2 linked regions of the Homo sapiens genome follow. The protein of the gene in region 1 interacts with the protein of each later gene in a biochemical or structural test. Each region holds a gene or a part of one and is shown in the gene's direction. Other genes may lie near its edges.

Evidence for each region. Proteins that work in one complex are often made in the same cells at the same time.
Region 2: of the proteins of IFIH1 (region 1) and TRIM40, one has a biochemical effect on the other in vitro, tested with the Homo sapiens proteins (one study listed by BioGRID).

The regions. Positions count from the first base shown.
Region 1 is NC_000002.12:162,306,651-162,317,277, reverse strand, and holds part of IFIH1 (interferon-induced helicase C domain-containing protein 1), read left to right. Parts: intron 1-6,344; coding exon 6,345-6,513; intron 6,514-6,694; exon of another isoform or gene 6,695-8,371; intron 8,372-10,422; coding exon 10,423-10,569; intron 10,570-10,627.
Region 2 is NC_000006.12:30,145,422-30,150,982, forward strand, and holds the end of TRIM40 (E3 ubiquitin ligase TRIM40), read left to right. Parts: intron 1-572; coding exon 573-668; intron 669-1,563; coding exon 1,564-1,788; intron 1,789-2,098; coding exon 2,099-2,121; intron 2,122-2,303; coding exon 2,304-2,391; 3' UTR 2,392-3,307; downstream 3,308-5,561. UniProt on the Homo sapiens protein: E3 ubiquitin-protein ligase that plays a role in the limitation of the innate immune response. Mediates inhibition of the RLR signaling pathway by ubiquitinating RIGI and IFIH1 receptors, leading to their proteasomal degradation.

The DNA.
Region 1 (10,627 bases):
TTTTAATTTTCAGTGTTCATAAAGTTTTATTGGAACACAGTCATGCTCGTTTGTTTACATATTGCTTGTGGCTGCTTTTCTACTCCAAAGGCAATTGGATGGAGACTGTGTGCCCTTAAAGCCAAAAATATTTATTATCTGGCATTTTAGAGAAAAAGTTTTCCAATCTTTGCCCTACATTACACTTTGTGCCATTTAGTCTTAGCCCAAATGGGTAAATTGCAATCACACACACACACACACACACACACACACACACACCCTTTTTCTTTAATCAAAGTTTCAACATTCTTTGAGAATCAAAATTTAGAAACAATTCATTGAAAGAATGTGTTGCTAGTTTCAGTTTTTCATGTTAGTGAAGAAACTCATTTTTCTTAAGGTAGCATTTTGACAGGGCGAATTTTACTGATGACTTTACATTGAATGTGATATGAATTATTTTTTGATAAGTGAAGATGTACTGTGATGTGTATAAATGCTGACCTGTTTGAATGTGACTTATTCAGGCTCGTAAGTCAAAAGTCTTGTTTTGGAAGACATGTAGACAAATAAAGCCATGACTAAAAGTCAAAGGCTTTGTCTACACCACTCTATGATTTTCACATGGTTTTTTTCTCTCTCTCTCTTTTGGGTCATCCATTGTTTGTATATTCATACAAACTTCTGGGCATTTGATTGATTTGCTATAGCCTATGATGCAATTTAGTCTTTAGTGAATAAAGTTAGTGATCTTTTGTAGACTTGACAGACACAGGGCCTGTCCAAAGACCCAAACATGCATCTAATTTTGATGGCCAGTTTTCCCAACAAGTAAATTACTTTGCACTGTTGTCTGTAATGTTTATGTCGTTTTGTGTATTGAGAACCAGCTAGAACGCATTATAGTAGTCCAGCTGGATATGACAAATGTGTACATCACTGTGGCAGAATCTTAATTTGGAAGAAAGTATGCAGCCTTCAAGCCAGCTGGAGATGGAAGATGGCATTTCCAGCCACAGTAGCTGTTAGAAGTCCAGAAGCAACAGAGTCCAGTAACACCACAAAGCTGTTTATGTTTGGTGGGTATGATGTCCCGATTGCCAGCGAAACAGCACTTCTCCCTATTTACTCTAAATACTTCTGCCTATCAGCATCACTTTTGTCTTGCCTGGATTGAATTTCCGCCAGCTAGATTTTATCCAAGTTCTTGATTCTGGCAAGCTTGGAGGCAGCTAGCAGTAATGCAAGGGATTTGACACAAAGAAGATATAGAGTAACGGGACTTTTGTGTACTGGTAGCAGTTAAGGCCAAAACAACCCAAATTCTCCCTCTGATTCACATTTCAAAGGAGGCCCCAAAAGACTGAGCAGCTATAAATTTGAGGCTCTCTAGGAAGCAATAGTTTCTCTGTGAGAGTGTGGAATAATTTTTGTGTGCATCATTTACATGTATTATCAGTTCCAAAACTAAGATATGGTGGACAATGAGACGGAAGCATTAAGTTTGGTAGAATAATCTATATTGAGGTGGTGGTCATTGACAAATGTTTATCTTACAGCAGCAAAGTGTGATAAGACTGTAGAAGGGGAACACATGGATTTGAGGTCCATCTTGGCTTCTTACTATATGCGTTACTTTGGGCCAAATTACTGAAGTTCCCTGATGCTACATTTACCTGTGAAAATGGACATCATAAAATTTCTCACAGTATTTTAGTCAACATCAAATCAGAAATAGTGTTTATGAAAAAGCTTATAAATCAGAGCTATTTGATATGATAATGGTGTTGACTTTTGTAACCATTCATCTGGTTACATTTCTGTGTAAATTTAAGTTTGAGAGATTGAGGTAAATTCCCCATGTCGCAATTGAGATATACTTCTTAAAGTCCCTAGATTATACTGATTTGAAAAAGAAATTACCTCTTTCATCCCAGAACCTAACTAGGATTAGGTAGAGGGTTGGTGTTTAGTAAGCATTGATTACTTGATTGATAGACTAATTGAATTTATTTCTGAAAGTGTCTGGAATAAGCGTTGAAAACACATGACGTATTGAATTGTGTTGCCAGGCGTTAGAGAATGGATGAATGATGAAAATAAGATTTCCAAATTTGCTTTTTTGAAGGCTTAAAATAGCATTTAACTAAGTAATCAAGACTTCTATAAAATGGTCTTGTATTTTCATTCTTTTTCTGTTTCCCCATAGACATTTTCTACTTGATCTATTATTTTAATTTAGGATTCCCACCCCATTTCCTAGCCCCTGCCCGTAATTACAGCAGGCCTTCTGAAAATGACTTTATACATAGGTTTGTGTCCAGCAAGTACCCAAAAACTTATTCATTCATTCACTCATTCATTCAGTTTGAATTTATTGAGTGGCATCTTTGTGCCGGATGCCATGCTAGTGGTGAAAAGATAGGAGAAAAACACAGAGACTGTTTTGTCCTTTCGTGAAGTTGTGTTGTAGTGTTAATTAGTGTTGATAAAAGAATGTCTACTGTAGGCCAGTCATGGTGGCTTACGCCTGTAATCCCAGCACTTTGGGAGGCCGAGGAGGGTGGCTCTCGAGGTCAGGAGATGGAGACCATCCTGGCTAACACGGTAAAACTCCGTCTCTACTAAAAATACAAAAAAATTAGCTGGGTGTGGTGGTGGGAGCCTGTAGTCCCAGTTACTCGGGAGGCTGAGGCAGGAGAATGGCATGAACCTGGGAGGCGGAGCTTGCAGTGAGCTGAGATGGCGCCACTGCACTCCACCCTGGTGACAGAGCGAGACTCCATCTAATAAGAAAGAGAGAAAGAAAAAGAAAGAAAGAAAGAAAGAAAGAAAGAAAGAAAGAAAGAAAGAAAGAAAGAAAGAAAGAAAGAAAGAAAAGAAAGAAAGAAAGAAAGGAGGGAGGGAGGGAGGGAGGGAGGGAGGGAAGGAAGGAAGAAAGGAAGGAAGGAAAGAAGAATGTCTACTGTATACAAGGGACTATTCTAAATACTAGAGTTTCAGCAATAAATATATGCCATTTTATCAATCATTATAATAAAGCAATCCTTAATGGTAAGGGGGTACCCCTGTACTGCCTTGCTCCTCTTTTAGGATGCTAAGTTACAATTTGGCATTGTTACATCTTAGTTATAACTAAGTTACAACTTGGCACACCCATCAATTTAGGCAGTCATGAACTCTGGGAACGAAAGTGATCATATAAACATTTCCATAGTGTCTTAATAATCAAGCTGAACAGCTAAAGAGAGATGCATGTTTCATCCCTGGCCAGTTCAGAACACAATGCATCTGTAGTCCTGGAGACTCCACACACCTTCCATTTACACAGAAGAACCAGAGATGCCATGACTAGTCCACCTAAGAACAGTCCAGTTCTCCCAACATGAAGTTGAGCACCCAAGTCAATCTCCCCAGGAACATTGTATTGTCTGGCAAATTAGGAAAGATAAGAATTTCATCTGCAAAAAAAAAAGTATGAATAAGAAATTAGCTATGTCAATGTGACAATAAATATTCATTGGGTTAAGACATTAACTTTTTGTGGGAAACTGGTTCTTTAAAATTCTTTTTTAACATACAGGTTTTGCCTCCTGATTTACTTTTATCTGAGAGTTGAACTCTGCTGGGTTAAAAAAATCACCATTATATTTAAATAGCTATCTAAGGTTATTATAAAGGGAAGAAAACATTTTCATTAAACTGTACAATTGTGTTGGTAAGCCAGTGCTTTATGGAAATGTCATTGGTTTCTTCACTGATTTCTGTTGGAAAGAAAAAACATATCAAAGAATTTAGAATATGAAAGCATTGAGTTGTATTATTACCAAATTAATTTTATTTCGTATTTCATAAATTAGTTAACAATGTATTAATAGACTACATAGTGAAAACATCCATCCATTTTTAACTTCACAGAGAAAACTTCGAGTGGGGGAGGGGCATGGGTGAGAATTGTTTTATGACTTGTTGCAGTCTCAAATGTAAATATTCACCTCCCACGAATTTCTGTAATTGTGTTTACATATTGGGATCAATATCTTTACAATGTTTTAGGAGAACATATTAAATTTTTAAAATTATATAATTGCTTCAAAGGGAGCTGATGTACTTTCCAGCACCAAAACTGAGAAGATTTCTTAAAAATTCAGCATCTTGATGAGGCTGCTAAAATTGCACAGATATATGTAGTTCCACATTCAAATTGTAAGAATATGTTTAGGAAATAATGACATCATGATCCTTATATGCTTGGACTCAATAACGGCAAAGAAAGCTTGAAAAATATGATTCCACAGTAAAAGTTGACTTAATAGAATAGTGGTTGAAGAAAATTTTGTGGATAGAATATGCTTAGGGATTTTTAATAACAGCATTTGTTGCCTCACTGGTTCTTTTTAAGGAAATCCTTCCTGATTGCTTCAGTCAAATATATTTAAAGCTGATTAAAGGATGGGGTAATAAAATATGAGAATGGCTGAGTTAAAAGAAGACACTGAAACCAGTCTTATTTACATCTATAGCAATTACTTGTTAAATTAGCAGATGATAATAAAGATGTTACAACATCAGGGAAGCCAAAGAATTTCCATTAGGAGACTAAGAGAGCTAGAAAAAAATGGTAAAAAATGAGCAAAAATCTGCTTAGAAAATGTTGTGGGTGACATGGACTGAATTCACTTGAAATTTACTGAGTTCAAATAGTTATTTTTAACCACTTCTTGCCAGAAAATGAATTTAAAATTGGAGAAAATTATAAGCTATAATTATAGTTCAAGAAGGCAGGATTCAGCCTCTAAATTCAACTGCCTGGGATCAAATTCTACTTCTGCCACTTACTCACTTTGTGACCTCAGAGAGGTACCTAAACATCTCTGTGCCTCGGATTTCTGATCTGTAAATGAGTTAATATTGGTACCTATTTCTGGGCTGCTGGGTTAATATATTCAAGTTCCCTAGAACAGCATGCTTAACTACTAGATGCTAAGACGGAAATATCCCTTGGGTAGAGACCATGCTGTATGTGCTTGTGCAGGTGAGGTGTTTGTAACAATAACTCTTCCCAATCATCCATAATAGTTCTAACACTGAATTAGTGCCAGACATTGTTCCAAAAATGTTAACAAATTTCTGACATAAAAGGTTATGGAATATATTTATAGAACTAGAAAATACATAAATTTGTAGGAAAGAACTAAACAATCCAAATGATACATGTGGAAGATTGGCAAATGTTGAGAAGGACCTTTGATAATATCAAAGTCAATATTTCTTATCTGGGAGGCTGATAGAATCACATGAGATGTTTTACTTTTTCTTTAATATCTGAGTTCCTAACATAGACAAAATAAATCATAATCTTTTAGGGGTGTTTCCTAGACATCAGTATTTTTTAAGGCTTTACGGTTGTTTCTAACATGCAGCTAAGATATAGAAACTCTGAAATTTCTTTTCAGCTGCCTTGTAACCACATATTGTAACCAAGGTCTAGGGAGATGAAGTAAATTGCCTAATGCCACAGAAAGCTAATGATGTCCTGCCTAACTTCTTTCATGTCTAAACATGGCTTGAGTTACTCTTTCCTCCAAATCCTTATTGCTATATTAGGACCTAGGGAAATGCACTGTGACAATGATTACACAAAAGATCCACATTTAAAAGAAATTTACTAATCTAAAAGAGAAAATAAAAGAAGGCTAAAGACTCTAATGAATGGATATAAAAATAATTCTGCCCCATATTTCCAAAAAAAAGATATAACAATAAATTTCCCATAACATTAAAAAAACACAAATTTGAGAAAAATTGATTATAGTAATAATCAACTATGCAAATATTACATAGGAAAAAATATAAATCTGCAGTAGTAATTACTTATTTCATAATGATAATCATGAAGAAAGGAGATAAGAAATGTTTGATTTCCCATTTACAGACTCCATAGATTGAAAAAATATAGCCAGCCCTAGATATACAGAAAGAAATTGGTGAAAATAGACATAACATGGCTGCAGACTAAAGATACTTTCTCTTCTATCCTTTATTCAGGAATGGCTGAGGTAAAATTTATTTTCTAGGTGTCAGGTTTGAATAATTCAATAGCTTTTAAAAAAAATGGTTCATATTTAAAAGGACACTTGGTCCAGAGATTTTTGTTGTTGTTGTTGTTGTTGTCCCGGAGATTTTTTTCCCTGCCGACTTCAGAATTGCTACAGGTAACATTGCTATTTTCTTCAATGTTTCAATGTAAGCCTTTATTTATACTTATGCTTAATTGCTCAGTTTTTCTAAAGGGTATTTCCTGTTTAAGGTTATTCAGAAGATGTTTGATCTTACTTAATTCTAATTTTCTCTTACAACAGATTGCTGCTGCAGAAAACAATGGAAATGAATCAGGTGTAAGAGAGCTACTAAAAAGGATTGTGCAGAAAGAAAACTGGTTCTCTGCATTTCTGAATGTTCTTCGTCAAACAGGAAACAATGAACTTGTCCAAGAGTTAACAGGCTCTGATTGCTCAGAAAGCAATGCAGGTATTTGTAATTTTACTGAGGAAGATTCTTCAAATTCTGCCTAGTGATTGAGAATTCAATAAAGCAGAAAGACACAATGCTAAACACCAAGATTTTTAGAATCAAAATTTTAAGAGTGGAACATATGTGATAGATCATCTATTTTATCACCTTAACAAATGAGGAAATTGATGCCTGGGAAAATATCAACTGATCAAAGACCATTTTTCATCCAACCAACACTCTTTCTACTACCTTATTTTAAAAACAATATGACTACCAGAAATTTTATCAAGATTATGTAACATTAAATATACACAAATACATTGGAAGAAAGTATTTTAGTGGTTATAAAAAATCTGCTGCATATTCTTCTGAACATTTTTATACATTTTAAGCAATGTATTAAGCATTTGATAAAAGGATTGTTTTGTCAATATATCTCAACCTTACCTAATGTGAGATTTTAAACAGCATTCAATAATAGTAATAACATAACATTTTATAGCTCCTTCTCCTACATTATTTGTAAATCTCACTTAAACTGCTATCTTATTTTTCTTTTCGTAGTATGCATCCTATGTTTCCAAAAATATCATATGAAAGACAAATTGAAAGTTAACTATTAATTAATTATAATCATTGCAGTTTTGTTCTGGTGACCCTAACTAATGAAAACTTTGCTGTAAAAAGTGGGGTGCTGCTGTAACAAACACCTAAACGTGTGGAAGTGGCTTTGGAACTGGGTAATTGATAGAGACTGTAAGAGTTTTGGGTGAATGGTAGAAATATGGGTGTTCAGGGTGATTCTGGTGAGGTCACAGAGAGAAATGAGAAAAATGTCATTGGAAACTGGAAGAAAGGTGATCCTTGTTATAAAATGGGATAAAACTTGATCTCACAAGTAATGGATTTGGATATTTGGCTGAGAAAATTTCTTAGCAAAATGCTGAAGGAGCAGCTTGATTTCCCCTAACTGCTTATAGTAAAATGCAAAAGAAGAGAAATTAATTGAAGGAGTTGTTATGCAAAAAGGAACCAAAATTTAAATATCTGGAAAATTCTCAGCCTATCCATATGGCAAAAAATGAGAAATTGTGTTATAAAGAGAACAACCAATTGATAACAAGATCATGGGTGCTACTGATGGACTTAATCAGCCATTTCAGCAGAAGGTAGGAGTAGAGATATATTATACCAGCAAATACACTTCCAGTTTGAACTGAAGGAGACAGAGAAAGCAGGACAGAATGAGAAAAGGATACTGGACTTTCTGGATTCTACAGAACCAGACCATAGAGCTATTTGGCTGTGAATGTGTACTATTCTTCAGGGAAAGGAAAGAATGCCCCCAAAAGTGATACAGAAGTCATCAGGGTTGCCACTTCCACCACAGACCCAGAGGCCAAGGCAGTTTCCTTTTTGGTTTCAAAGGGCAAAACTGTCTCTCTGGTTTTAGTGAGCCCTCAGGATGACCCTGCCTAGTGTCTCAGAAGCAGAGCTATCCTCACAGAAAGCTGTGTGGATGGAGCCCTTAGAGAGAGCAGGCTGTCTTGCAGAGCCCTAGAACCTGCCATTCCGTGGACCTGGAAGGCAGAGCATCAAACCAAACAGAGCTATTCTCAAGCCTTATAAGCCTTAAGATGTGACAGAATTTACCTTAATAAGTTTTGGATTTGCTTGGGACCCATCACCCTTGCTTTCTTTCCTATATCTCCTTTTTGGAATAAGACGTCCATCCTATGCCTGTCCCACCATTGTATTATGGAAAAGAAACATGTAGCTCAACTGGTTTCACAAGTTCACAGCTGGTGATGAATTTGCCTTATCATGAATCACACCTCTAGTCTCATCTACGTCTGATTTGGACAATGTTTAGGTGAGACTTTTGACTTTAGACTTAGAGTTCATGCTTCAGTGAGTTAAGGCACTTGGGCTGATGAGATGAGATGAATGTATTTTGTATGTAGTAAAGATATGAATTTTGGGAAGCCAATGGTAAAATGCTACAGATGGAATTTTGTCCTCCTAATACTCATATGTTGGAACCTAATATGACTCTATCTGGAGACAGTGATAGTAGGAGATAGTTAAGATTAAATGAGCCAGGCCAAGCGTGGTGGCTCACGCCTGTAATCCCAGCACTTTGGGAGGCCAAGACGGGTGGATCACCTGAGGTCAGGAGTTTGAGACCAGCCTGGCCAACATGGCGAAACCGCATCTCTACTAAGAATACAAAAATTAGCTGGGGTGGTGGCATGCAGCTATAATCCCAGCTACTTGGAAGGCTGAGGCAGAAGAATCACTTGAACCAGGAGGCTGAGGTTGCAGTGAGCCGAGATCATGCCACTGCACTCTGGCCTGGGTGTCAGAGCAAGACTCCGTCTCAAAAAAAAAAAAAAAAGATTAAATGAATCATAAGAATGGGGCCTTAATCTGATAGAATTGTGGCCTTTTAAGAAGAGGAAGAAAGAGAAAAAGAGAAACATCTGTCTCTTTCTCTCTCTTAACCGTGTGAGGACGCAGGGAGAACGTGGCCATCTGCAAATCAAGGAGAGAGTCCTCATCAGACATTGACCCTGCTGTCACCTTGATCTTGGACTTCCAGTGCCCAGAACTGTGAGAAAAGAAGTGTCTGTTGTTTCAGCCACTCAGTTGATGGTGTTTTATTATGGCAGCATAAACAGACTACTGTAGGAGCTTAGACTCTGGGTCCTGATACATATCGGATCCTGATGCTTATCAAATCCAGGCTCCTTCCTTGAATGTGTGACCTTTGGCCAGGTTCTCGACTTCTCTATGCCTCAGTTTACTCCTCAGTAAAATGGAGATAATAATATTACTTATCACCTCAGTAAAATGGAGACAATAATATTACTTACCATCTAGGTTTATTTTGAGACTTAAATAACTTAATGTATGTAAAGTATTTATATTGTGAGTGCAAAATAAATTAACTATTATAATAGTCCCTAATGTACTTAATATCTAACTGCAAACATTGCCAAGTTTTCTTCTTGTCCAAAGTCACAACAGTTTTCTTTAGGAAATTTTCCATACAAAGTGGGGCACATTTTCACTGGGTTCTTTAAGATGAGATAATAAAAAATGATACGTTAGAAAATTTTCCTTATGGCATCAGTCTTCTCTGACAGATTGCAGCTTCATAAAGGCAAAAACTCTTGATTTTCTTTTTAACCCACATAAGCCCTTAATAAAATACCCATTACATGTAGTTGAAGTAAGAAAAGCTGGAAGTGAGGAATGGAGGAAAGAAGAAAAGAGGGGCACAAAATATTTCATTAAATGTTTTAAAAATCCCCAGAAATTCAGAATACATGAATATAGGCTGACATTAAAGCAGATGTACGTCTCGTGCAGAACACACAGTGAGGAAACAAAATGGCAAGAGCAAAGCTAAAGAAAACTACCAAATTTGCATTTTCATTAATTCAGCCTTAAATGTAACTTTGTGTCACTGAATAAGTGACTTACTTCCTAAACATGACGGTCAGACAGGAAATCACTTTTCTTGTGATTAGCATAATGCTTATATTGTTTTTTTAGCTACAGTCTAATCATTACAAAGAACTACTCGTTGTGTCCATATTAAAATTAAAAGTACCTTGCCATAACAAAAGCACATTCTAAGCCTTTCGAAATGTCAACATATTAAAATATATTAAAGCAATCTCTATTGCGGGCTCTCCATTTTGTTTTCAAAATAACAATAACAGCTATTTATATTGTATAAAATCTTGCATTGCAATACAATTTACATTCTATTCAGAACTTCAAAGTATTTAAATATATTCAGGCAATCTCTATTAGGAACCTCTAGTTTGTTTTCAAAATAACAATAACAGTTATGTATGCTCTACAAAAACTTGTATGGCACTATGATTTGCATTCTAATACTGTTATTCACAGAGATTGAGAATTTATCACAAGTTGATGGTCCTCAAGTGGAAGAGCAACTTCTTTCAACCACAGTTCAGCCAAATCTGGAGAAGGAGGTCTGGGGCATGGAGAATAACTCATCAGAATCATCTTTTGCAGATTCTTCTGTAGTTTCAGGTACTTGAAACACATACGTACTTTAATACAGTAATTACTACTTCCAGAAAAACCAACT
Region 2 (5,561 bases), on another chromosome or scaffold:
TTAGAAACTCAAATCATTCTTTAACTCCATAGCTTCAAGGACACAGCGACACATCCAGATGCTGATTTAAGATTGAGAGAGAAGGCACTGCCTACCTGGGCTATGAGTTTGCACCTAGTAAAGGGCTCTATCTTGTCACTCATCCCAGTGAGGACCAGGCAGCAGAGGTAGCAGAGGGTTGCCATTTCCTCTTTAAGGCAATTCCCTCCAGACTGGCTCCATGTGTTACTGTAAAATAGTAAGAAGTGCTAGAAGACTGTCATATAACTTTTGTATGTTGAGAGAAAGCACCCTGAAGTCAAGTAGAAATGGTTCTGTTGCTATCTATTATTTTTTCTGTACTTCTAAGACTGTAAAAAAATTACCCATTACTATTTCCCCCCATCATTATCCAATAAATAAACTCTCAAGTCCCTTACTCCAACCATGATGCTCTAAAAGCATTTCTTTTTAGGCAGAATTTTACATTAGTTGCATTCTGGGATCAGGCCCCCTACCGTGTTCCATTGACTCCTCCCAGTGGGTGCCCCCCTCACTCCCAGTCTGACAAGCAGGTGTGTCTGTCTCTTTAGGAACGACTCAATCGCCGGAGCAGGAAGCTCAGAAAGGACATTGCAGAACTTCAGCGGCTCAAGGCTCAGCAGGAGAAGAAACTGCAGGCTCTGCAGGTGGGTTTTTCGGGTTCCTGGGAAGGACTCCCTGGAGTGTTCTCAGGAGCCCTTACTTAACTATTCTGGACATCTGTCTGTCCCTGGAACAGCCTGATGTGGGCAGATGGTCGTGGAGGCTGAAAACCCGGGTGTTGGCCTTGGCGTCAAAGTTTGCTGGTTGAGTGACCTACGCAAGTTAAGCCCTCTGATCTTTATGTGACTTACATGTTAAATGAGAACCAGTCCTGCTCTGCCTGGATCACAGTAGGGATCAAAGGAGACCAGTGTCTCGTCAACTGAAAATTACTACACAAGCCATAGGCCTCTGTTTCTTTTTATTTTATTTTATTTTTTTTTTGAGATGGAGCCTTGCTCTGTCGCCCAGGCTGGAGTGCAGTGGCACGAACTCCGCTCACTGCAAGCTCCGCCTCCCGGGTTCACGCCATTCTCCTGCCTCAGCCTCCCGAGTACTGGGACTACAGGCACTTGCCACCACGCCCAGCTAATTTTTTCTATATTTTAGTAGAGATGGGGTTTCACCATGTTAGCCAGGATGGTCTCGATCTCCTGACCTCGTGATCCGCCCGCCTTGGCCTCCCAAAGTGCTGGGATTACAGGTGTGAGCCACCGTGCCCGGCCGCCATAGGCCTCCATTTCTGTCTCTGACAGTCTACCTTTCTATTCCTCTTGGTCACATGGCATCTGTAGATATTCAGAGAGTGAGGTGGAAAGGTGAGGTGTCCCTGCCTTTATGAGAATCAAAGCTGCTTCTGCTATACCTGTGACACACAGAGGCAACACCATGAGGGCAAGAGGACTGAGGAATCAGCATTCCTGCTCAGACATTCAGAGACTGTGAAGGGCCAGGAGGGAGCCACCTGACACTGAGTCTTAGGGAGCCCCTTTCCTGTAGTTTCAGGTAGACCACGGGAACCACAGGCTGGAGGCTGGGCCGGAGAGCCAGCACCAAACCAGGGAACAGCTGGGTGCCCTCCCTCAGCAGTGGCTGGGCCAGCTGGAGCACATGCCAGCAGAAGCGGCCAGAATCCTTGACATCTCCAGGGCAGTAACACAGCTCAGAAGCCTGGTCATTGATCTGGAAAGGACGGCCAAGGAATTAGACACCAACACACTGAAGGTGCATACCCTGAGGCCTTCCCCAAGGGCTGGGATTCTCCCCGATAGGAGGCAGCCCATCTGCATCACCCTTCTGGGAGGTGTAAGAGGGAGGGGCCTGTGTGATATGTGGTGACTTGTGGTAGATGTGGCTTGTTCCAGGCTACAGAGTGCTGCTGCAGCAGAATGGGCACAGAAGAGGGGTGTTGCTATGTTCCCCCAGTTCTCAAGGTGGCACCCCAGAGTGGCCTCCAAGAGTGAATTGGGAAAGGAATTTGGAGGTGATAGGAACCTGAGAACCAATTATGATTCTCACTTTTTCTCTCTCCTAGAATGCTGGTGACTTACTGAACAGGTACGAGCTGTCCCTTCTTCTTTCCCACATGTGCATATAAACCCACACAACACAGACATGCACAGAGGTCAAGGAGACCCACTGCTCCGTTAGCTTTTGTATCTTGATGCTACATGGCCAATGGAAGAGCCAATGGAATATATGAATACATATTAATCTATGAAAGATTTCTTTGTTTCTAGGAGTGCTCCACAGAAATTAGAGGTTATTTATCCCCAGTTGGAGAAAGGAGTCAGTGAATTGCTTCTTCAGCCCCCTCAGAAGCTCTGACCTGTTCATCCCTGGGACACCTCACTTCAGGCTCACCTCAGCCTCCTCTCTCTCCTTCCTCCAACCTGTCCAGGCCCCCACTGGGTCTACCCAGTGCATCTTCGGGCCTGCCAGCTCCTGAACATGTCACCATTTCTTCATGTCCACAGTCATCACCTGATGCCTGACCCTCTGACTCTTGGACGATAGCCAGCCTCCTTCCAGGACAGGCTCATGCTTGGGGCTGCCACTGTGGAGGTCGGGGCCCATGGTCTCCAGGAGCATTTGTGAAATCTCCATTTTGCCTGTAAACTGATGGTAGTGCCCATCTCTCACAATCTCATTCAAATAGGATCCTCCAGGCCTCTGAATGGCCCGAGCTCATCAGCAGTGACACCACCTCACATGTGGAGCCCAGCTGAGTTCCTGCAGTACTTGTTGTCTGTACCACTCACCTGGCACTTATTTATTATTGTTGTGGAAGACAGACTCAAAGACAGCCTCCCTTCATGATCCTCACCTCTTGGAATTCATGCCCTTGTTTGGTCCCCTCCCCTTGAGTGTAAGTGGGATCTGTGACTTGCTTCTAATGAATGGAATAAGGCAAAGGTGATAGGGTGTCACTCTGGCAACTGTGTTGCATTGTATAGAACTCCTCCTTGCTGGCCCACCCTTTTAGAGCCCCTCCTAGGAGCCAAGAGCAGCTTCCAGCCAACAACAAGCAGAGGCCCTCAGTCTTGTGGCTGCAAGAACCTGAATTCTGCCAACAACCCGAGTGAGCTTGGAAGCAGATTCTTCCCCAACTGAGCCGGATAAGAACCTAGTCCAGCCAACACCTTGATTATAGTCTTGTGAGTACCTAAGCTGAGGACCCAGTGAAGCTGTGCCAAAATTTCCCACCCACAGAAACAGTGTGACAATAAATGTGTGTGTGTTTTTTTGTTTTCTGTTTTCGTTTTTGAGATGGAGTCTCACTCTGTTGCCCAGGCTGGAATGCGGTGGTGTGATGTCGGCTCACTGTAACCTCTGTCTCCTAGGTTCAAGCAATTCTCCTGCCTCAGCCTCCCTAATAGCTAGGGATTATAGGCGCCCGCCACCACACCCGGCTAATTTTTTGTGTTTTTAGTAGAGACAGGGTTTAACCATGTTGGCCAGGCTGGCCTTGAACTTCTGACCTCAGGTGATCAGCCCACCTTGGCCTCCCAAAATGCTGGGATTACAGGTGTGAGCCACCGCGCCTGGCCATGTGTTGTTATAAGGCAGTAAATTTGTGGTAATTTTTGTGGAGTAATGGATAATGAATACAATTGTATATTAGTCATTTTTGTATAAGCCTCACTTCTTTGGGTGAGCAGGGATCATATTCTGTCTGTGTCCTCATGTCTAGAACAGTGTCTGGCTCATAGCTGGTGTCCAGTAAAATTTTAAATGTATGTATAAGTGAACTAATAAGAAAGCATAAGGAAGGGCTCTTCTCAATCCTCTGATTAAAAAGAGCCATCAATTACCTTATAATCAGTATTTATTGAGCCTTTGCCAAAGTAGTCAATACCATACTGAGAGGTATAAGGAATAAAACATGGCCACAATTATAAAACAAGCCACGTGGTGGTGCAAAGAGTGAAAACTACAGGGTCAGACTTGAGTTTAGGTCTCGGTCCTGACACCTAATGCCTCTGTAACCTTGGGCAAATTACTTAGCCTCTCTGAACCTCTGTACTCCCCCCTCTAAAATAAGGGTTATGGTACCTGTGGCCTGGGATTGTTGTCAAAATTAAATACATGCTGAGTGTCTGCTAAAGTGTCTAAAACGTAAACATTCAAATATGTTCATTTTATCTTTTTTTTTTTTTTGGTGTATTCTGGCTTTATTGTTATTTTTTTTTAATTATACTTTAAGTTCTAGGGTACATGTGCACAATGTGCAGGTTTGTTACATATGTATACATGTGCCATGTTGGTGTGCTGCACCCATTAACTTGTCATTTACATTGGGTATTTCTCCTAATGCTATCCCTCCCCCCTCCCCCCACCCCAAAACAGGCCCTGGTGTGTGATGTTCCCCACCCTGTGTCCAAGTGATCTCATTGTTCAATTCCCACCAATGAGTGAGAACATGCGGTGTTTGGTTTTCTGTCCTTGCGATAGTTTGCTGAGAATGATGGTTTCCAGCTTCAACCATGTCCCTAAAAAGGACATGAACTCATCCTTTTTCATTTCATCTTTTTTTAAAAAAACCACTTCCCCTTTTGAAATGAAATATGGAATGATAAAAAAATTTTAAATAAATTCCACTTCACCATCCAGAAGTTTATAATTTAGCTGTGGAACTATGACTAAACAGCTACAGAATAAGAAGAGAGCGTGTAACTGCACTGAATTAGGTATCACAGAGGCTAAGTGCCCTGGGAATTCAGAGGAAAGAAACAGCGAGCCTGGGAAAGTCAGGGTAGGTTTTGTGGGGGAGGTGGGGATTGGACAAGTGGGAGAGGAAGGTGAGAACATTCTAGGTCACAATAACCACATGAATGAAAGCATAGAGGTAGGAAAAAGCCACGGTACCTTTGTAGGAGTGTGAGGAAACCAACCTGGTTAGGCTGGAATGTTCAGGAATGGGGAAGACGAGAAGTCAACAGGCTAAATGGATGACACCAAGACATAGTGAGGTTTCTGAGTCAGGAATGAAGGGAGAAGTGGTGTTTAATGAAAGCCAGTCTGGATCGTTTGCACAAGAAGGACTGGGACAGAGAGTTGGGGGCTGGAAGGAGAGGGGAGGAGAAAGAGCCTAGTGCAGATGTTCAGAAAAAAGGTATAGTTATTTGGCAAGAAGCTGCAGATCTCAGAGAAACATAAGATCCCAAATCTAAGAGCAAGACATTAGCCAAGGAAAGAACACCCCTGAAAGTGACAGCTAGCAATTTCTGCATCCCAGATGGAGTTAATGTCACCAAGAGAACTTGTACTAGGAGTAGGAGGAGACTGACAGCCCCCAGGGTCTCTCCTCAGGAGAGAATTCAGTTATACTGAAGATGCCTTCCAGGCCCCCCTTGGTCCCTTCTGACGTCACCACAGATGATCAGGCCAGGGGTGGGAGTCTGAACAGCAGATAATTGGCCAAACAAGTCTATGAGGTCACCTGTCAAGGAAGACCTTATCAAAGAGGGACAATAGTAATTAACTGAAACCATCAG